Regions from separate parts of the Homo sapiens genome. Here region 2 is linked to region 1. A link means that fine-mapping ties the variant in region 1 to the expression of a gene that starts in the linked region. Tissue or cell type: whole blood. Region 1 holds a variant in brackets; the other region holds the start of a gene. All regions are shown on one strand. Distances are between the middles of the regions.

Region 1 (11,054 bases):
TGCAGTCAGACAGGCTCCCATTCCCAGTAGCGAAAGGGTCCCGCAGACCCAAAGCCTAAGGAGCCAACAAGCAGTTCGTCCATGGAGCCTGGCCTGGATCTCCCACTGTCTTCCTCTCCAGCATTCAGCCAGATGTTTGCTACTGTGTTGTCTTAGTCCTGGCCCACCTTATCCTTTCCTTTAAGAAATAAAAATCTCAACTGGGTGCGGTGGCTCACGCCTGTAATCCCAACACTTTGGGAGGCCAAGGCGGGCGGATCACCTGAGGTTGGGAGTTCGAGACCAGCCTGACACATGGAGAAACCCCGTCTCTACTAAAAATGCAAAAAAAATTAGCCAGGTGTGGTGGTGCATGCCTGTAATCCCATCTACTGCAGAGGCTGAGGCAGAATAATCGCTTGAACCCAGGAGGAGGAGGTTGCAGTGAGCGGAGATCACACCATTGCACTCCAGCCTGGGCAACAAGAGCGAAACTCTGTCTCAAGAAAAAAGAAAAATCCCTTTTTGTTACACCTTTCCTGAACTTCAGATCCTGTGGCATGCTGACACTGAATTCCGGGGGCCTGCTCAGCCACCTTCTGAACTAACAACGCTTATGAATTCGTGATCGTTTAAGCCTGGGAGATATTCAAGTAAAAGGCACTTTAACACTTGAATCACTTTTGGTTTAAAATAGCTCGTTAGTAATGAAAGAGTTGGAGAAATGCCACCCTGAATTATGCCATATTAGGATACTGATTACTAACTAGTTCACTGATTACCACATTAGTATGCCCTCAAACTGAGGGCACATGGGGACCTGCCAATGCAGGGAGGGGCATTCTGTGAATCCCCCATTATTTACATAAAGACAGATCATCCCAAAGGGACTCAATTGTCTTGACCCCCTCCCTGGAAGTCTCATCCAGGGAAGAATGAGCCAGGATCACGGGAGAAGAGCTTCAAGGGACGTCAGCTGCACACCCAGACAGATTTTGCCACAGGCCACCACCTATTCTGAAGGCAAAAAATCATTTTCTCTCCCCTGAGCTGCCTGCATCTGCCTCCCCTCTCTTCTATGAAGGGGCTGTATAAGCTTCCAGATCTCACTGGATTCTGGGATGCCCTAGTACATGTTATAGATTTGTATACTTTTTCTCTTACGAATCTGTCTATTGTCAGCTTAGTTCAGAGACTCAGTTGTGAAACCTTCAGAGAGTACAGGGAAAATTTTCCGTCTACACCTGCCTCATTTTAGACAACTGGAACACTTGGTTAATGGCTGTAATTGTTATACTTCAAAATGAAATACTGCCCTTTTTTTTTTTTTTTTTTTTTTTTTTTTGAGACAGGGTCTTGCTCTGTCACCCAGGCTGGAGTGCAGTGGTTCAATCATGGCTCACTGCAGCCTTAACCTCCTGGGCTCAAGCAGTCCTCCTGCCTCAGCCTCCCAAAGTGCTGGGATTACCAGCATGAGCCGCTGTGCTGGGCTCATTTTTTGTGTTTCTTAAACTTTAATTGTATTACTGCATGTCATTTCTAGCAAATGATCAGTTAGCAAAGGAAAATCTGACTGGATTCTCTATTCTTATTTGAGACTGAGTCTCTCTGTCTGTCCTCCAGGCTGGAGTGCAGTGGCACAATCTAGGGTCACTGCAACCTCCACCTCCCAGGTTTAAGTGATTCTCTTGTCTCAGCTTCCTGAGTAGCTGGAATTACAGGCATGAGCAACCATGCATGCCTAATTTTTTGTATTTTTAGTTGAGATGCGGTTTCACAATGTTGGCCAGGCTGGTCTCAAACTCCTGACCTTAGGTGATCCACCCACCTCAGCCTCCCAAAGTGCTGGGATTACAGGCATGAGCCACCAAGCCCAGCCTCTATTCTCTTTTTTTACTGGTTATATAAATGACTGTTCAAAAGGAAGAAATAATAGTTTGTGTTAGTATGGGCATCTCATAATAAAACCTAAAATAATCTCAGCAAAGACTGGAATTTCAGATATGTGCACAGCTTGGCACTGTCACATGTAACCTATCTGCTTGCAGATTGATGGAGGTTTAGTTCCATCTCAGTGTGGACAGACAGTACTATCATGGGACATTTTACATGTCAATACGTCCCTACAGTGATTGTGAGCTCATCTTGAAATGTAAGCAGCACAGACATGAATTTTACATTGTAAGTGGTAGGCTAGCCACAAATAGCTTTTCCCCCTTCGAAAAAGAAAATATATGTGTGTGTATGTGTGTGTGTGTATATATATATACACACACACACACACATTAAAACGCGTATCAGGCTGGTCACAGTGGTGCACACCTGTAATCCCAGCACTTTGGGAAGCTGAGGCAGGAGGATTGCTTGAACCTAGGAATTCCAGACCAGCCTAGGTAACACCGCAAGACCCCATTTCTACCAAAAATAAATTATTTTTTTCTGGCACTTTGGGAGGCCGAGGCGAGAAGATTGCTTGAGCTCAAGAGTTCGACAGCAGCCTGGGCAACTTGGTGAAACCCCATCTGTACAAAATATAGCAAAATTAGCCAAGTGCGGTGGCACACACCTATAGTCCCAACCACTCAGGCGGCTGAGGTGGGAGAATCACCTCAGCCCAGGGAGGTCCAGGCTTCAGTAGAGCACCACTGTACTCCAGTCTAGGCAACACAGACCCTGTCTCAAAAATAAATACATAGAAAATTATGACCAGGCACAGTGGCTCACGCCTATAATCCCAGCTCTTTGGGAGGCTGAGGTGGGCAGATTACAAGGTCAGGAGTTCGAGACCAGCCTGGCCAACATGGCGAAACCCCATGTCTACTAAAAGTACAAAAAATTAGCCCGGTGTCGTGGCACATGCCTATATTCCCAGCTACACAGGAGGCTGAGGCAGGAGAATTGCTTGAACCCGGGAGGCAGAGGTTGCAGTGAGCAGAGATCGTGCTTCTGCACTCTAGCCTGGGTGACAAAGCAAGACTCTGTCTCAGGAAAAAAAAAGAAAAAAGAAAATTTTCTGGGCATGGTGGCACACACCTATAGTCCCAGCTACTCAAGAGGCTGAGTAAGAGGACCACTTGAGCACTTGAGACTAGGAGGTCGAGGCTGCAGTGAACAGTGATCATGTCATGGCACTGCAGCCTGGGTGCCAGAGCAAGACTCTGTCTCTAAACAAATACATACATAATTTTTAAGAAGCATGTCAATACAATAAATTTTATCATGAAGAAAAGCAACCAGTACAAAACAAGGTCCCCATCCTGATGGACTTCACATAGCAGTTAGGGAGGACAGGTATAAACACCTTGGAGATTAAATGGTAATATTTAATTAACTCTTTTGAAACAACGAGGTCTTTCAATGACAAGGATTTATCCCAGAAAAGATTTAAGTAGGAGTGAAAAGTCTTTGGAGACCGAGTGCGGTGGCTCACGCCTATAATCCCAGCACTTTGGGAGGCCGAGGTGGGCAGATCCCCTGAGGTCAGGAGTTCAAGACCAGCCTGGTCAACATGGTGAAACCTGGTCTCTACTAAAAATACAAAAAGTAGCCGGGCGTGGTGGCGCATACCTGTAATCCCAGCTACTCGGGAGGCCGAGGCAGGAGGATCACTTGAACCTAGGAGGTGGAGGTCACGGTGAGATGATATCGTGCCATTGCACTCCAGCCTGGGCAACAGGAGTGAAACTCCGTCTCAAAAAATAAAAGAAAGAAAGGAGGAGCGTGGAGAATGTGGATGGATTTGGGGTAATGGCTTGCAGGGAGCCCCGGGGGTTGAGGGCAGCTGAAATGTTCAAGGCCAAAAGTGGACCGAGAAGCTTCATGGGCCAGCAAGCACAGAGGCTGCAGGGCAGAGGGAAGAGGACCCAGTGCTGACTGGGGCCAGACTGGAGGCTGAGTGGCCACAGGGGTGCGAGGCATGGTTCCCTGTGGTGCCCACATCCCCTGATGCCCAATAAAACTTTAGGGCTGATGACGCACTGACTTTACCCACATCAACAAGCCTCGGTTTCCCTATCTGTAAAATAGGAAGAAGGATAGCTACGGATAGCTACTATACTGGTATCAGAAATAAACAGGGCAGTGTATGAGAACTGTGGTATCTCACACACATACTTATTTAATGTTTCTCTAATGAAATCCCTGTGCTCAAACCCTCAGAGGAAAGTATGTAAATCAAAACTGTCAAAGAATACCTAAAATTTGATTACCTTTGAAGAGTCCTATATATAAGTGCTTTACTTGTTACGTTTCCTGCCATCAAAATAAATTACCCACTGCTCATTTTAGAAATGTTAGCTTTAAAAAAGACAAATATTGGCTTAATCCCTGATTATTCAAACACACTAAACAGGAACTTTCTCATGCCTATAATCCCAGCACTTTGGAAAACTGAGGTGGGAGGATGACTTGAGGCCAGGAGTAAGGAACTTTCACTGTATTACAGAATTATTCACATATATTCTTAGAAATCACTTTATCTTATCATCATCAAGATATATTGCTAAGTAAGAAAAAAAGGCAAGGTTTAAAACATTAGAACAGTGTGTATAGCAAGGAGAGAAAGAAAAAGAACATGCATTTGTATAAGAAACTCTGCAATTACACTTAAGACATTGGGGAGTGGGGCAGAAAATACAGAGAAGAGGGGGCTGAGGGTAAAATGATGTTCACTGAATATGTTTTAAACTATGTGAATATATTGCCTGTTAAACATATATATGCTTAATAAAAAATATCAAAATGGTATATATGTTTAATATGTTTTTAAAATATATATGTTTAATAAAAATATCAAAATATATATGTTTAATAGACATAAACGTATATATATACACACACGTTTTTTTTTTGAGACGAAGTCTTGCTCTATCGCCCAGGCTGGAGGGAAGTGGCATGATCTTAGCTCACTGCAACCTCCGCCTCCACGGTTCAAGTGGGTATAAGCAATACTGCCACCTCAGCCTCCCAAATAGCTGGGATTACAAGCATGCACCACCAAGCCCGGCTCATTTTTGTATTTTCAGTAGAGGTGGGGTTTAACCATGTTGGTCAGGCTGTTCTCAAACTCCTGACCTCAAGTGATCCACCTGCCTCAGCCTCCCAAAGTGCTGGGATTACAGGCATGAGCTACCACACTCAGCCTATTCTATTCTTTTAACTTTTCTTTAGCTTTAAAATTGTTTTGGCAGGTTCAGTGACTCATGCCAGCAATTTGGGAGGCCAAAGTGGGCGGATCACAAGGTCAGGAGTTTGAGACCAGTCTGGCCAACATAGTGAAACCCCATCTCTACTAAAAATACAAAAAATTAGCCAGGTGTGGTGGTGTGCACCTGTAATCCCAGCTACTCGGGAGGCTGAAGCAGGAGAATCTTGTGAACCCGGGCAGCGGAGGTTGCAGTGAGCCGAGATTGCGCCATTGCACTCCAGCCCGGGTGACAGTGTGACACTGTCTCAAAAAAAAAAAAAATTGTTTTTAGGCAGGGTGCAGTGGCTCATGCCTATAATCCCAGCACTTTGGGAGGCCAAGGTGGGTGGATCATTTGAGGTCAGGAGTTCGTGACCAGCCTGGCCAACGTGGCGAAACCCTGTCTCTACTAAAAATACAAAAATTAGCCAGGCATGGTAGCGCACACCTGTAATCCCAGCTACTCGGGAGGCTGAGGCAGGAAAATTGCTTGAACCTGGTGGGTGGAGGGTGCAGTGGACAGAGATGACACCACTGCACTCCAGCCTGGGTGACAGTGAGACTCTGTCTCAAACAAACAAAAGAAACAAACGAAAGAAACAAACAAAACTTTTTTTTAAGTTGCAGGGGTTGGGGATGGGCAAAAGAGCAGAAAACTGTTAGGGGTAAGTCCTGAGAAGCAGAGAAGGAAAGAGGAATTTTTTCTTTTTTTTTTTTTTTGAGACAGAGTCTCACCCTGTCACCCAGGCTGGAGTGCAGTGGCACGATCTCAGCTCACTGCATCCTCTGCCTCCCGGGTTCAAGTGATTCTGATTCTCCTGCATGAGCCTCTTGAGTAGCTGGGACTACAGGCACGTGCGCTACCACGCCTGGCTAATTTTTTTGTATCCTTAGTTTCACCATGTTGGCCAGGCTGGTCTCAAACTCCTGACCTCGTGATCCGCCCTCCTCGGCCTCCCAAAGTGCTGGGATTACAGG[C/T]ATGAGCCACCGCACCTGGCCGGGAATAGGAATTTTCACACACTGTCCTTTATACTTCTTGTTTGAACCTCGTGGCATGGGAATGTATTCACATATAGAATAAATAGACCAAGAGGAAATGTGGAGTAGAAAGGGCGAGACAGAAGCACCTGGTGCTGCGTCTCCACCTCCGGGGTTCCAGCGGGTATAAGCAATACTGCCACCTCAGCCTCCCAAATAGCTGGGATTACAAGCATGCACCACCACGCCTGGCTCATTTTTGTATTTTCAGTAGAGGCAGGGTTTCACCATGCTGGTCAGGCTGGTCAGCACGGGTCAGCACTCCCCGAAGGCTGGCCGCTGGTGGTGACAGATCCCGACTGTGGCAGGAGAGACTGTTGTGTCTGCGTGGCCTTGAAAGTGGGTCAGGCCGGGCTTTCATTGGCAGCTGGTGAGCAGCCTCACACTGCCTCAGGACACTGGATCAAAGATAAGTCAGGCTTCTCTAAACACGAGATGGGCCGTGAGTTTGCTTCTCAGCCTTGCATCCTCTGATTTCTTCGCAGATGGGTTTGTCTCACTTGAGTAGGGGAATTAGATACGAAACACCACTTCGACAAATTCAGCTAATGTGGGCAAGTCCAGCTCCCACACATCCACTACACCAGTTCCATGTAAACTCTCTGTGGCATTAAGCTCCCCATTCCTCCTTCCAGGAAAAGTGTGAGCTCCTGACAATAAGCAAGCACAGGGTCTGTGTCCCAGGAGGAATCCACAGGAGACTCTGTGTGCTCAGGAAACCTGCACACCATTAGAGAAAAAATAATACTGATGATGGGTGATAGTCACAGATCAAGTCACAATTTAATTTCGTGCTAGCTCTGCAAAGTCTTCTATATTCTCCATATATCATTCAGCATTACTTTAGAATAGCTGTGAAAAGAAACTACATACCGGGATCTAGAAACAAAAGAATGAGTTTGATGCCAAAAATTATTTGTAGGTTCTTATTAATCCCAATTGCTTTTTTACTTATTTTATTTTATTTTTTGAGGCAGAGTCTCGCTCTGTCACCCAGGCTGGAGTGCAGTGGCACAATCTCACTTCACTGCAACCTCCGCCTCCCAGGTTAAAGCGATTTCTCTGCCTCAGCCTCTGGAGTACCTGGGACTACAGGCACGTGCTACCATGCCCAGCTACTTTTTGTATTTTTAGTAGAGACAGGGTTTCACCATATTGGCCAGGCTGGTCCCAAACTCCTGACCTCAGGTGATCTGCCCAATTCAGCCTTCCAAAGTGTTGGGATTACAGGCCTGAGCCGCCACATCCAGCTGCTTTTTTTTTTAATTTTATTTTTTTGAGACAGAGTCTTGCTCTGTCACCCAGGCTGGAGTACAGTGGTGCAATCTCGGCTCACTGCAACCTCTACCTCCCAGGTTCAAGTGATTCTCATGCCTCAGCCTCCCGAGGATCTGGGATAACAGGCATGCGCCACCGCACTGGGCCAATTTTGTATTTTTAGTAGAGACAGGGTTTTGCCATGGTGGCCAGGCTGGTCTTGAACTCCTCACCTCAAGTGATCAACCCCCCTCGGCCTCCCAAAGTGCTGGGATTACAGGTGTGAACCACGTGCCCAGCCCCAATTGCTTTTCATTGATCCCTTTATGGCTGACTGGTATCATGGCAGTCACATCACCACTAGGCTCATTTAAATGACAAAAATATCCAAAAATGGTTTGGGGATTTAGTGTTTGTCTTGCTGAGCAATTGATCCGCATGCTCTTTGCAGCTACAGGGATGTTCTCAGCAGCAGCTCAATACATAAGCTTTATTTTATTTATTTATTTATTTATTTAGAGACAAGTCTTGCTCTGTTGCCCAGGCTGTAGTGCAGTGGTGCGATCTTGGCTCACTGCAACCTCCGCCTTCTGGGTTCAAGCGATTCTCCCGCCTAGGCCTCCCAAATAGCTGGGACTACAGGCGCGTGCCACCACGCCCTGCTAATTTTTTGTATTTTTAGTAGAGACAAGGTTTCATCATGTTAGCCAGGATGGTCTTGATCTCCTGACCTCGTGATCCTCTCGCCTCGGTCTCCCAAATTGCTGGGATTACAGGCGTGAGCCACCGCACCCAGCCAATAAATAAGCTTTAAATAATGAATCCCAAGGTTCTAGCGGGTGCCTTACAGAGCCTCTGAAGCAATGACTGAAGAGGCCACCTTGGATAAAATGAAACACTAACCCCAAGCGTGGCAAGGCTTGTCACCATCGTCACTGTGCCCACTTCAGAACAGGCATCACTCCTTCAGCCTGGCCAACCTGGCGAAACCTTCTCTCTACTAAAAATACAGCAATTAGCTGGGCGTAGTGGCACACACCTGTAATCCCAGCAGTTTGGGAGGCTGAGGCAGGTGGATCACCTGGGGTCAGGATTTCAAGACCAGCCTGGTTAACATGGCAAAACCTCATCTCTACTAAAAATACAAAACTTAGCTGGGGCCGGGCAAGGTGGCTCACACCTGTAATGCCAGCACTTTGGGAGGCTGAGGCGGGCTGATCACGAGGTCAGTAGATCAAGACCATCCTGGCTAATATGGTAAAACCCCATCTCTACTAAAAATAAAAAAATTAGCTGGGCATGGTGGCAGGCACCTATAATCCCAGCTACTCGGGAGGCTGAGGCAGGGGAATTGCTTGAACCCGGCAGGCAGAGGTTGCAGTGAGCCGAGGTCGCACCACTGCACCACTGTACTCCAACCTGGGCGACAGAGTGAGACTCCGTCTCAAAAAAATCAAACAAACAAAAAAAACTTAGCTGGGTGTGATGGCAATCCCAACTACTTGGGAGGATGAGGCAGGAGAATCACTTGAATACGGAAGGCGGAGGTTGCAATGAGCTGAGATTGCGCCACTGCGCTCCAGCCTGGGTGATACAGCAAGACTCCATCTCAAAAAAAAAAAGAAAAACTAACTAAAAAAACAAAACAAAAAATAGGCATCATCCCGTTCCCCAACCCAGAAGGAAGGAGACAGAAGAAAATCTTCTGGCCGGGCGTGGTGGCTCACCCCTGTAATCCCAGCACTTTGGGAGGCCGAGGTGGGCGGATCACGAGGTCAGGAGATCGAGACCAGCCTGGCTAACACAGTGAGACCCCATCTCTACTAAAAATACAAAAAATTAGCTGGGTGTGGTGGCGAGCACCTGTAGTCCCACCTCCTTGGGAAGCTGAGGCAGGAGATTGGCGTGAACCCGGAAGGTGGAGCTTGCAGTGAGCCGAGATTGTACCACTGCACTACAGCCTGGGTGACAGAACGAGATTCCATTTCAAAAAAAAAAAAAAGAAAATTTTTCCTTTTTTGAGACAAGGTCTCACTCTTCCCAGGCTGGAGTGCAGTGGCACGACCACAGCTCACTGTAGCCTTGACCTCCCAGGCTCAAGCAATCCTCCCACCTCAGCCTCCTGAGTAGCTGGACAAGCCTGGCTAATTTTTTATGTTTTTTTTTGTAGAGACATGGTCTCACTTTGTTGCCTAAACTGGTGTTGAACTCCTGGGCTCAATGAATCCACCCACCTCAGCCTCCCAAAATGTTGGGATTACAGGCGTGAGCCACTGTACCCAACAAGAAAATCTTAAAGTCAAACTGAAAGGCTGTCTCTCCCCAAGCCAACCGCACCCCACCCCACGCGACAGTCAGCCTAACATTGAATAGCTGAAGTTCCAGACTGTGGGTCAGGGGATCTGCACTGTACGCCATGGGACAAATTGACCTCGTTTTCTTTTTTTTTTTTTTTTTTTTGAGACGGAGTCTAGCTCTGTTGCCCAGGCTGGAGTGCAGCGGCTGGATCTCGGCTCACTGCAAGCTCCACCTCCCAGGTTCACGCCATTCTCCTGCCTCAGCCTCCCAAGTAGCTGGGACTACAGGTGCCCGCCACCATGCCCAGCTAATTTTTTTGTATTTTTTTTTAGTAGAGACAGGGTTTCACCGTGTTAGCCAAGATGGTCTTGATCTCCTGAACTCGTGATCCGCCCACCTTGGCCTCCCAAAGTGCTGGGATTACAGGTGTGAGCCACCGCACCTGGCCTTGACCTCGTTTTCTTTGAATGAATGCTAACAAACAGGGTAAGAGAAATTCAATGACCAGTGAAAACATTCATTGGTATCTCTGCTTCCATTGACCCACCATTGCCACACAGGACCCTGTACGGGTTTCTTCCCAGAGAGCCCTGGCGCTCCAGGAACTTCCGTTTGGTAGCCCTTCACTGGGGACATACACATTGGTTTCTGATGCTCACAGCGATTGCTTTCTTTTTCGTTTGCTTCTGCTCGCTGGGCACTTCTCTAATGAGTGCTTCTTCACTTCACATCATTACGGTTTGTCCGCTCTCCTCCAACCGCGAGACTCCTCCAAATCACCATGCATCATGTGTTTCTGTTACTATATGTTGTTCTTATGTTCTCATAATGCAAGGACATCAAATCTAGACATCATGCAATACCATGGACACATTACAATGAAACTCAGGGTTAAACCCTGCCTGGTACTTGAGAGCACCTAGTTAGAACCCTGTGTGGTTGTGCTTGAGACCTCAACTGTAGGAATTAGTTCACTGAGAAAAGTGGTTGTTGCTGCCTCTTTAAATTTTTAAGCATGGCTACTCTGGGAGTGCTGCCTTTGGGTTAGCCCTGCTTTATAAGGAGCAGTCAAAAGAAAAAAAGAAATTAAAAAGAAAAATCAGCTGGGCACGGTGGCTCACACCTGTAATCCCAGCACTTTGGGAGCCCAAGGTGGGTGGATCACCTGCGGTCAGGAGTTCGAGACTAGCCTGGCCAACATGGTGAAACTCCATCTCTACTAAAAATACAAAAATTAGCCGAGCACGGAGGCAGGTGCCTGTAATCCCAGCTACTGGGGAGGCTGAAGCAGGAGAAT
Region 2 (11,054 bases), 190 kb after region 1:
AAGGAAACAGCGTGCAGCGGAGAGGAGGTTTTGAGGACTCTATTATAGTTTCCCATCAATTATTCTGTAAACCGTAAACCACTCTAAAAAAAAAGCTTATTAATTGATAAAAAATAAAGTAAAAAGAAATGAACTGTCAAGCCATGAAAAGAGCCTTAAATGCATAGTACTAAGTGAAAGAAACCAATCTGAAAAGATTACATAGTATATGATTCCAACTATATGACATTCTGGAAAAGGCTAGAGTAGAAACAGTAAAAAGATCAGTGGTTGCCAGGTGTTACAGGGATGGGAGGGATGGATGAATATGCAATGAGGATTTCTTCCTTTTTTCTTTTTTAAAAGAGTATCACTCTCGTCACCTAGGCTGGAGTGCAATGGCGTGATCTCAGCTAACTGCAATCTCTGCCTCTCGGGTTCAAGCAATTCTCCTGCCTCAGCCTCCTGAGTAGCTGCAATTACAGGCACCTGTCACCACGCCTGGCTAATTTTTGTATTTTTAGTAGAGATAGAGTATCACCATGTTGACCAGGCTGGTCTCGAACTCTTGACTCCAGGTGATACACCCTCCTTGGCCTTCCAAAGTGCCGGGCCTCCTCCTTTTTTCTTTTTTTTGGAGACAGAGTCATGCTCTGTCACCCAGGCTGGAATGCGCTGGCACAATCCAGGCTCACTGCAACCTCCACCTCCAGGGCTCAAGTAATTCTCCTGCCTCAGCCTCCCACGCCCAGCTAATTTTTTGTATTTTTAGTAGTGACGGGGTTTCACCACGTTGGCCAGGCTGGTCTCAAACTCCTGACTGCCTACCTCGGCCTCCTAAAGTGCTGGGATTACAGGCATTAGCCACCACACCTGGCCAGCAATGAGGATTTCTAGGGCAATGACACTCTTCTGTATAACGCTGTAAGGGTAGATACATGTCATCATATATTCGTCAAAACCTACACAATGCACAACACACAGTGTGAACCTGAATGTACACTATGGACTTCAATTAATAATAACACATCGACATTGGTTTATCAATTGTAACTGATGATCCACATTAATGCCAGATGCTAGTAATAGAGAAAAGTGAGGTGAGGGAGACTAGGCATATGGGAACCCTACCCTCTGCTTGATTGTAAACCTGAAACTGCTCTAAAAAATAAAGTCTATTTTTTTTTAAAAAAAGCACTGGACAAACATTAAAGTGATCTTAATTCTACTCCCACTATTGTCAGATCTACAAAAACTTAAAAAATTTCAGTTCCTCCGGTCTACAAACTTTTCTATATCCATATTCATCCCTAGCTTCTTTAAGTCTCAAAATATTTCCCATTGCCTGCTCCCACTCAGTTCTCCCCTCTCGGGTATTCTCGAAGACTCTGAAAGTTATGCCACTCCTGTCTTCCCCACATTTTTAACCCCCGTCCTTCCCAGTCTATAAACTTAAGTTTCCCCCGTCTCCCAAAACAGACAAAACTATTTCCGAGACACCGAATTTCCCTCTATCATCCAATCTTCCGGTGCTTTTCAAAAAAGGTCTACACTGTTGCCTTGCCCCTGCCTTATTTTTTAAGAGATGGGGTCATGCTGTGTCGCCTAGGCTGGAGTGCTATGGCATGATCACAGCTCACTGCAGCCTTGAACTCCCGGGATCCAGCGATCCTCCCGCCTCAGTCTTCGGTGTGGCAGATTGTAGGCGTGCGCCACAGCATCCGGCCTGTGTTCGGCCCTGTTTGTGACTTCCCATTCACTCTCCAATGTGCTATGCTCTTGACTTCCAACTCTGACTACCCTACAGAATATGCTCAAATCACCCAATTCTTCCCAGCTCCGCAGTCAGTGGACTCACTGTGTCTGTGCAGCACTTGGCATTGCCTGTCACTCCTCCCTCCCTGAGATTCACTCCCTGGACACCACTCTCCTCCACTCCCGGAGGTGTGACTCTTTTGTAAGTATCCCCAACTCCCACACATATTAAATGTTGCAGTACCTCACGAGTCCCACCCTGTCCCAAACTCCAAGTCCTCTTAAGGACCTGTGTTCGAAGCCACCATTCTGTTGATAACCCCCAAATCTGCATCTCTAGCCTAGACTCCTTCCTGTGCCTGTCCCACAGGAACTCAGGCATTCAGTCAACGACCACTCCCCGCTTCTTGAAGAATCTACCCCAGCCCTCAGGTGCACCTAGACTGTTCCATCTGAACCAAGCCTCCAAGCCCTCCTCAGACTGAGGTTATCAGGTGGAAACATGACCCAGGCCAATCAGACTTTCCTCTCCTGAAAACTGGTAATTATGATCAAACTTTCTTGACGCTTAAGCTAGGAAACCATGTGTGAGAAATGGAGAAAGCCAGTCTGCAGAGCCAGGAATGAAGGAGACAGGAAGAAGGGAGTGCACCCAGCTCCTGGAGAAAGACAAGCAACTCCTGTGGTGGTGATACCTGCTATCTGGGTGTTTCTGACCTTTCTATTCTGTCAGACACGCCTATCCTTTCATAAACTTGTTTTTGTTTCTTTTTGTTTTGCCTACTAAGCTAGTTTTAGTCCATTTCTGTACTTGAAATCAGATGACCCCGTGATATTCTTCTATACACTACCAAGAAAAACATACCCCCAATTAAACTGCATCATGCTATCAGTGTGTATCCCGATGTCAGAAATATTTAAAGATAGAAATCAGTGTGACTTAAAAAAAAATTTCAGGCTGAGCGCAGTGGCTCATACCTGTAATCCCAGCACTTTGGGAGGCTGAGGCAGGCGGATCACCTGAGGTCGGGAGTTCGAGACCCGCCCGACCGACATGGAGAAACCCCATCTCTACTAAAAATACAAAATTAGCCAGACGTGGTGGTGCAGGCCTGTAATCCCAGCTACCCGGGAAGCTGAGGCAGGAGAATCGCTTGAACCCGGGAGGTGGAGGTTTGTGGTGAGCTGAGATCGCACCATTGCACTCCAGCCTGGGCAACACTGCGCTCCAGCGTGAGCGAAACTCCATCTCAAAAAAAAAAAAAAAATTCAACTTTTATTTTAGAGTTAGGGGGTACCTATGCACGTTTGTTACAAGAATATACTGCAGGACGCGGAGGTTTGGGGTGTGAATGATCCCATTACCCGGGGAGTGAGCACAGTTACCAACAGGTAGCTTCCCAGCCCTTGTCCCCGTCCCTCTCTTTCCCCCTCTAGTAGTCCCTGGTGTCTATCATCCCATCTTTATGTCCATGTGTAATCAATGTTTAGCTCCCCAAAGTGACTTTGAATCAATGTAATCCAATCTACATGTACTCCACACACCCCGCTCCACGAACCTGGAATGCCTTCTCGTCTTCCACCCATCCTAATTACACCCATCCTTCAGGACTAAGCTCCAAACAATTCTACTTTTTCTGAATCAGGACCAAGGGAAATTTAGAATGTAGCAATTACTCTATTGTTATTTAATTTTTAATTGCTTAAGTCTTATCTGCCCAACAAGATTATCAACTTCTTCAAGTCAGACTTGTCGTACACAGATCTATACAAATAATAAATACTAAAAGTATTTAATTTGAAAAAAGAAAAAGCTTATTCAAAGGTGGTAACCACTCCATTTTCCACTAAGCTCCAGAAAGGGAAGATTTCAAATAATAATTTAAGACATGAGAAAAGGGTCACTATAACTTCATTTTTCCAACAAGGGAAGGGACTTATGCGGCAGTCAAAGAGAATTCAGGAAAACAAGCATATGTAGGTGCTCAACATAATTAGTTGTCAGGAAACAAAATTAAAACCACAAAGAAACTACATCCTCACTAAAATTAAAGGACTTGCAATATCAAGTGTTGGCAAGGATGTGGAAACCTGGATACCTTCAGATGCTGTGGGCGTGCGACACGGGGAAACTGTGGCAGCGGTGTGCACAACAGCTGAACATGCGTATCATCTAGGACCCAGCACAAGAGTATTATGTGCACCAAAAGGCACACACAGCAAAGGTCTGTAAGAAAACAGAATCAGCCACGGTGCGTTCACACAAAGGGCAATGCCGTGCACCGAGGCGGATGGAGTCCACCTCTCAGACAGAAGCCAAGCCAAAGCAGCCGGGCACAAACGACAAGTGGTGAGTGGCTCCATGCCCCTGAAGTTCAACAGGTAACGCTCATCTACAGTAATGGAGGTCAGAAGGACAGTCACCTTTGTGGGGCTACAGACATACATGGCATAATGACCTCTCAGTCTGTCGACAACAGACCACATATACACCGTGGTCCCATAAGATTATAATTTGTATTTTTACTGTATCTACGTTTGGATGCACAGACACTCACCATTGCATGAAGAGCTGCCTACAGTATTCAGCACAGAAACACGCTGTCCAGGTGTGTAGCATAGGGGCAACGGGCTGTACCAAGCAGCTAGGTGTGCAGTGGGCAACACTGGCTATAGGTTTCTGTTAAGTGCACTCTAGGACGGTCCCACAACAACCAACTGGACTAGTGACAGCGTCCCCCTCTTTAAGTCACATATGACTGTAATGAATGGGTGAGAGTGCAGGGGAGCCTCTGGAATGCTGGGGATGGTCTTCCTTTGATGTGAGTGGTGTTCCATCTACAGGAGAGTGTCCATATGCAAAAATCCTTCAAGCTGTACATACAGCTGGCTCCCCACCCAGATTCCTTAACCAGGCCAGGGCACCCATGCCCCAGCTGCTGCCAGTTCCTACTAAGGGCTCTTTACTGCCACTCTCTCCCAGAAGAATGGCCCTCGGCTCAGGGTTAGCAGTGCCACACTCCCACCCTCATCCCGGAGGGGCAGCAGCCTGCAGCCACCAACCCCTCTGCCGCAATTAGGGCCAATTGTAGCATGCTCCTGGTGAGATGGGGTTAACGCTAGCCTCCAGCTGAGACGCCTTTTCCTTCCCTACCCAGCTTCCCTCTCGCCCTTCCTCCTCAATTTCACTTGCACAAGGATCTCTTTAGTGTTTGTGAACCTGACTGTATCTTAAGTTATACCTCAATAAAAAGAGTTTTGTTTTTAAAGGGGTGATTCTTTTACACAGCTCGTGCTATCTTCCCTTGAGATTCTGATCAACAGTTAAGAAATCTCACTCCCTCAGAGCAGAGATGCACTCCTTGGTGAAAAGGGACCAACATCCGTGGCCCGTGGGGTGTTCCTGCCTGCAACAGAGGCCGCGCGGCGCTGTGTAAATGGCATGGAGTCTCAGATGGTCTGCCACTAGCTTGCTGTGTGAATGGGCACTCCTTCAAATGTTCTGCAGCTCACCTTCCGAACTTGTAAGCAAGGCGATTTGGCCCTGAGATTCTCTGAAGTCTCTCCTAACTGTAGAAATCCTTTGATCTCATAAAACATTTTCATTAACGTGGAAGACCCTAAGTGCTACCACGACCACCCTTAACTGCACAGTACTTAGTTCTGGAGCACAAGTGACTTCCAAGCAATCACCATCACACGAACCTCAAAGCTGAAAAATTATCAGCACACTTCTCTCCCAACTCTTTACCCAGGTTCCCTTCTAACCTCAGAAACCACCAAACACAGCCCCACAGCACAATCTTAATAACAGCAGTTCCTCCTTGGCCTGCCAGCACCCACTCTGCGTTATGTGCCTACCTGGTGGTTGTGATATACAGAATATACTGATAGACAAGAAAAACTAGGTGAAGCATTTTAAAGAACATTTCAGAAATGATGGGAAGGGGTGGGAAGGGAGGGGCGGGAACAAGACCACACAGTGTTCAACGACTTAGCGGTTCCAGTGAACCAACTGATGCCCGTCTTCAGGGACAGACAGCTAGAAATTCTAGACTAGAACAGAGGCGTCATGGTTTGCCTACCCTTATCCTAAACAATTACCATGCGAACAACTTAATGTCGATCACAACAGATGTAAGTCCGGAGTCTCTCCACAGTTTCCAGGAGGCTGGTGGCAAATAATTGCCCTCGTCTTGGATTCAAACACGTGGCTATTCATGAGACGTTCTGCCTCTACTTTAGAGATTATCGACATCAGCAAATGCGTGCCGTTCACCTTCTACAACCGAAAACGCCCTTCAGGTGGCATTCGAAAAGCAGCCACTCCCTGATGCCATGCGGGAGCGAGCATGGAAAGCGCATTTCTGAAAGGAAACACCCAGAAAGGGTAAGTTCACCTTGGGTGGCACAAAGCGTGCCAGGGTTCACCGGCCTCCTGCATGGAAGGGAGCCACGGCCAGCGCGCCCGGGTCCCGAAGCGCAGTGGACAGGCAAGGCCCCCACGGGCGCGGCCTCGAGTTCCAGCCAGGGAGGCCCCGAGTCCAGTCCTAAGCCCCAGCCAGAGTCCTGGCCCCAAGTCTCGGCTCCGAGTCCAACCCCGAGTCCCGGCCGGAGCGGCCCCGAGATCCGGCGAGGAAGCCCCGAGTCCCCGCCAGGGAGGCCCCGAATCCAGCCCCAAGTCTCGGCCCCGAGTCCAGCCCCGAGTCCAGCCCCGAGTCCCAGCCCCGAGCCCCGGCCGCGCAGGCCCCGAGCCGAGGGCGCCCCGCCAGCCCGGCCCTCACCTTCCTGCTCGCGCCGCCAAGGGACACCTTGGGCCGCGTCTTGAAGTCGCCTTCGAAGCTGAACATCCTGGCAGCCTAGCCCATGTGCGGGCAGCGCCGCCGCGGAAGCAGCCGGGCGGGCGGGGCACGGGGCGGGCTGGGAGGCTCTCGGCGCCCGCCCGCCCGGCCCGGGGCAGCGAGGACGCGGCGGCCGGGAGGCGACCCGAGCCCGCCCCCGGGCTGTACCCTCCCAGCCCTGCCCTGGGGCGGGAGGGGCGGCAATACTGGAGGGGCGGCCCTGCCTCGCCTGCCCCTCATCCACGCCGGCCACAGCTCGGGCCGCTGCAGGGGCGCCCAGCGGGCAGCAAACCCGGCGCTTGCACCTGGAACTGCCGCCTCGGGAGGGAAGATGGCGGTCAGCCGTCAGTGCGTGCGCGGCCCTGCAGACGTGCGCGGCCCTGCAGACGTGCGCGGCCCTGCAGACGTGCGCGGCCCTGCAGACGTGCGCGGCCCTGCAGACGTGCGCGGCCCTGCAGACGTGCGCGGCCCTGCAGACGTGCGCGCCTCCGCCATTGACGGCACGGCGCTCTTCCCGGCGGTTCCGCTAGCGTGCGCGGCCCCGCAAGGCGCGCTGGAGCCTGGGGAGGACGGCGGTGACGCGGGCTGGGCACGCGGCGGAGTGGGCGGGGCCTGGTGCGTGCTGGGGGAGCGCGGCGAGGGGCGCGGGAGGTGTTGGGTGCGGGGCAGGGTGCGGGAAAGGTGGAGTGCGAGGCACGGGCCGGGATGGGGTGCAGGGCAGGGTGCGGGGTGCAGGGTGGGGTGCAGGGGCCGGCACCCGGAGCGGGCTGGGAGCGGCCAATCTGGTGCCAGACTCGAGTGAGGCGGGAAAGGAGCAGCTAGGCCCAGCCCGTCTGTTTACATCCCACCTGTTCTATGTCTATGACACGCACAGACGGACGTAAATATTTACCATGTACACAGACATGCGCAGATTTGCCTCATACATAGCACACATATGCATCTATAGATACAGCATCAATACATATAAATATGTATCATGTACACATACCTGTGTATGCAAAAATATTTGCTCCTGGACTTACCATGGGGCTTTGTCCTGATAAACCCATCGTAAGATGAAAATATTGTAAGTTGAAAATGTATTTAATGCTACAATAAACCCATCACAAAGTCAAAAAATTGTAAGTTGAGCCATTTTAAGTTGGGGACCACCTATACATAAACATGTGTCTTATATCCACACATACGTATACATAATATCTCATATACATGTGCATATACATATATATCATACACGATTGAAACCAATTTCTAAAAATTGATTTTTGGTTGTATACAAGGTGTGCAACATGATGATTTCATAGAGACATTGTGAAATGACTACCCTCTTTGTGTGTGTGTGGTAAGAGTACATAAAATCTACTCTCTTAGCAAAATTTCAACACACAATACGATATCATCTACAGTCGTCCTGCGGCCGAGCACGGTCGCTCACGCCGGTAATCCCAGCACTCTGGGAGGCCAAGGCGGGCGGATCACCTGAAGTGAAAAGTTCGAGACCAGCCTGGCCAACATGGTGAAACCCCATCTCTAATAAAATACAAAACTTAGGCCGGTGTGGTGGTGCACGCCTGTAGTCCAAGCTACTCTGGAGGCTAAGGCAGGAGAATTGCTTGAACCCAGGAGGCAGAGGTTGCAGTGAGCTGAGATCGTGTTATTGCACTCCGGCCTGGGCGACACAGAGACTCCGTCTCAAAAAAAAAAAAAAAAAAAGAAATACAGTCCTGGCGCCGCCTGTAATCCCAGCACTTTGGGAGGCTAAGGTGGGTGGATCACCTCAGGTCAGGAGTTTGAGACCAGCCTCGCCAACATGGGGAAACCCCGTCTCTACTAAAAGTACAAAAATTAGCTGAGCATGGTGGCATGTTTATGTATAGGTGGTCCCCCACTTAAAGTTCTTAAACTTCTAGCTGCTTGGGAGGCTGAGACAAGAGACTCGCTTGTGTCTGCGAGGCGGAGGTTGCAATGAGCTGAGATCGTGCCACTGTACTCCAGCCTGGGTGACAGAGTGAGACTCTGTCTCAAAAAATAAAAATAAACAGGCCGGGCGCGGTGGCTCACGCCTGTAATCCCAGCACTTTGGGAGGCCGAGGCGGGCAGATCACGAGGTCAGGAGATCGAGACCATCCTGGCTAACACAGTGAAACCCCGTCTCTACTAAAAATACCAAAAAAATTAGCCAGGCATAGTGGCAGGCGCCTGTAGTCCCAGCTACTTGGGAGGCTGAGGCAGGAGAATGGCGTGAACCCGGGAGGCGGAGCTTGCAGTGAGCCGAGATCGCGCCACTCGCGCCACTGCACTCCAGCCTGGGGAACAGAGGGAGACTCCGTCTCAAAATAAATAAATAAAAATAAAAATTAATAACAATAATAATAAACAGTCCTCCTGTGAACATTAGATCTGTGGGCATATTTATGCTACATAACTGCGAGTGTGTTTCCTTTTACATATCTCTCCCCATTTTTCCCAGCCCCAGGAAGCACCACTCTACTCTCTGTTTCTAGATAGGATTTGACTGTTGGATTCCACGTATAAGTGAGCTCATCAGTATCTTTCTCTCTGTCTCGCTTATTTAACTTGGCATCATGTCCTCCAGGTTCACACATGTAGCCAATGACAGGAATTCCTTCTGTATCTTGCTGTTATGAATAATGTTGCAATGAACTGAGAGGAGCTCCAGAAGAAACAATTTCATTTCCTGTAGATATATAACCAGCAGAGGGATCGCTGAGTCATGTGGTAGTTCCAGTTTTGTTTTTTTTGAGGAAACTCCATACTGTTTGCCATAATGGCTGTACCTCCAACGATGGGCAAAGGCTTCTATTTCCCCACACCCTCACCAACACTTGTCTTTTGGATAATAGCCATGCTAATACTGTGAGGTGATATTTCATTGTGGTTTTGTTTTGCATTTCCTTGACGGTTATTGACGATGAGCACCTTTTCATTACCTCTTGGCCGTTTTTATGTCTATTTGGAAAAATTCAGGCCCTTTGCTCGTTTTTTAATTGGGAAAAGCCAAATTTTAAAACTAATATTTGTCATTACTATGTGGAATGCACTGTTTTTTTTAAAAAAAATTCTGTCTTTTTATTTTATTTTATTATTATTTTTTTGAGACAGGGTCTCACTGTATTGCCCAGGCTGGAGTGCTGTGGTACGATCACAGCTAACTGCAGCCTCAACCTCCTGTGCTCAGGCAATTCTCCCAGTTCAGCGTCCCAAATGGCTGGACCAGGTGTGTGCCAGTAGCCTGGCTTTCCCCCCAACCCCCCAGCTTTCCCCCCCCCCCCACTTCTTGTAGAGGTGGGTCTCATTATGTTGCCCAGGCTGGTCTCAGATTCCTGGGCTCAAGAGATCCTCCTGCCTCGGCCTCCCAAAGTGCTGGGATTACAGGCATGAGCCACTGCACCCACTGTCGTCGTCTTCTTTTTAATGCTAGACGCAAAGCACTAAATACGTTTCACAATCCACTAATGGGTCTCAGCTCACAGTTTGAAAAAATCTGCCATATAAATTAAATATAGACAGATAGATGGTTAGAAAGATATACAAACACTCTACTGTTGTCTGAATGTTGGTGTCTCCCCAAAATCATAGTTTGAAACTTAGTCCCCAATGTGATCGTATTAAGAGGAGGGGCCATTAGGAAGTCTTATAGCATGAGGCTCCACCCCCATGAAGGAAATCAGTGCCCAAGGCAGCCTGTTTGTCCCTCCTGCCATGGGGAGACACAGCAAGAAGGCACCATCTATGAAGCAGAGTCCTCAGACGCAGAATGTGGGGTGCCTTGATCTTGGACTTCCCAGATTCCAGAGCTGTGAGAGATATATTTCTGTTGTCCAAAAATTACCCAGGCCAAGGCATTTTGTTATAGCAACCCAAATAGACTAAGGCACCCACACCCAGACACAAATGTGTGTGTGTATATATATGTGAACAAGGTCACAGTTCGTATATATGTATGAACTATCATAGTTCATACATATATTTGAACTGCAACAGTATAGAATGTATTTTTAATCATAAAATGTCCCAATTTTACCATTTTGAAAGCTTACAAATTTTGTCAATTAAAAAAGATATAACCTTTTGTTTTTACCTGTCAGGTTAGCAAAGATTTAAAATTGGTAATATCAATATTTGTGACCTCTGTAAGTCTGCTCTGAAGTCTCAGATTCTTTTTTTTTTTTTTTTTTTTTTGAGACAGAGTCTTGCTCTTGTTGCCCGGGTTGGAGTGCAATGGCGTGATCTTGGCTCACTGCAGCTTCCACCTCTCCACCTCCTGGGTTCAAGCGATTCTCCTGTCTCAGCATCCCGAGTAGCTGGGATTATAGGTGCGCTACCATGCCCGGCTAATTTTTGTGTTTTTAGTAGAGATGGGGTTTCACCACGTTGATCAGGCTGATCTTGGACTCCTGACCTCAGATGATCCGCCCGCCTTGGCCTCCCAAAGTGCTGGGATTACAGGCGTGA

Evidence for each region.
Region 2: UBE3C starts here. The variant in region 1 is fine-mapped to the expression of UBE3C in whole blood (TOPMed, PIP above 0.99).

Annotation. Positions count from the first base shown.
Region 1 is chr7:157,325,099-157,336,152 of GRCh38, reverse strand. No RefSeq gene overlaps it. Among named protein-coding and RNA genes, the nearest start is that of DNAJB6, 6.4 kb to the left of the region's middle. RefSeq lists an enhancer at 1,971-2,050. The variant C/T (reference allele first, on the strand shown) is at 6,143.
Region 2 is chr7:157,134,803-157,145,856 of GRCh38, reverse strand. It overlaps UBE3C (ubiquitin protein ligase E3C), which reads right to left and starts at 6,931. Exons shown (of 23, transcript NM_014671.3): 1 at 6,519-6,931. The coding sequence starts at 6,584. RefSeq lists silencers at 6,300-6,369, 6,420-6,809, 7,090-7,439.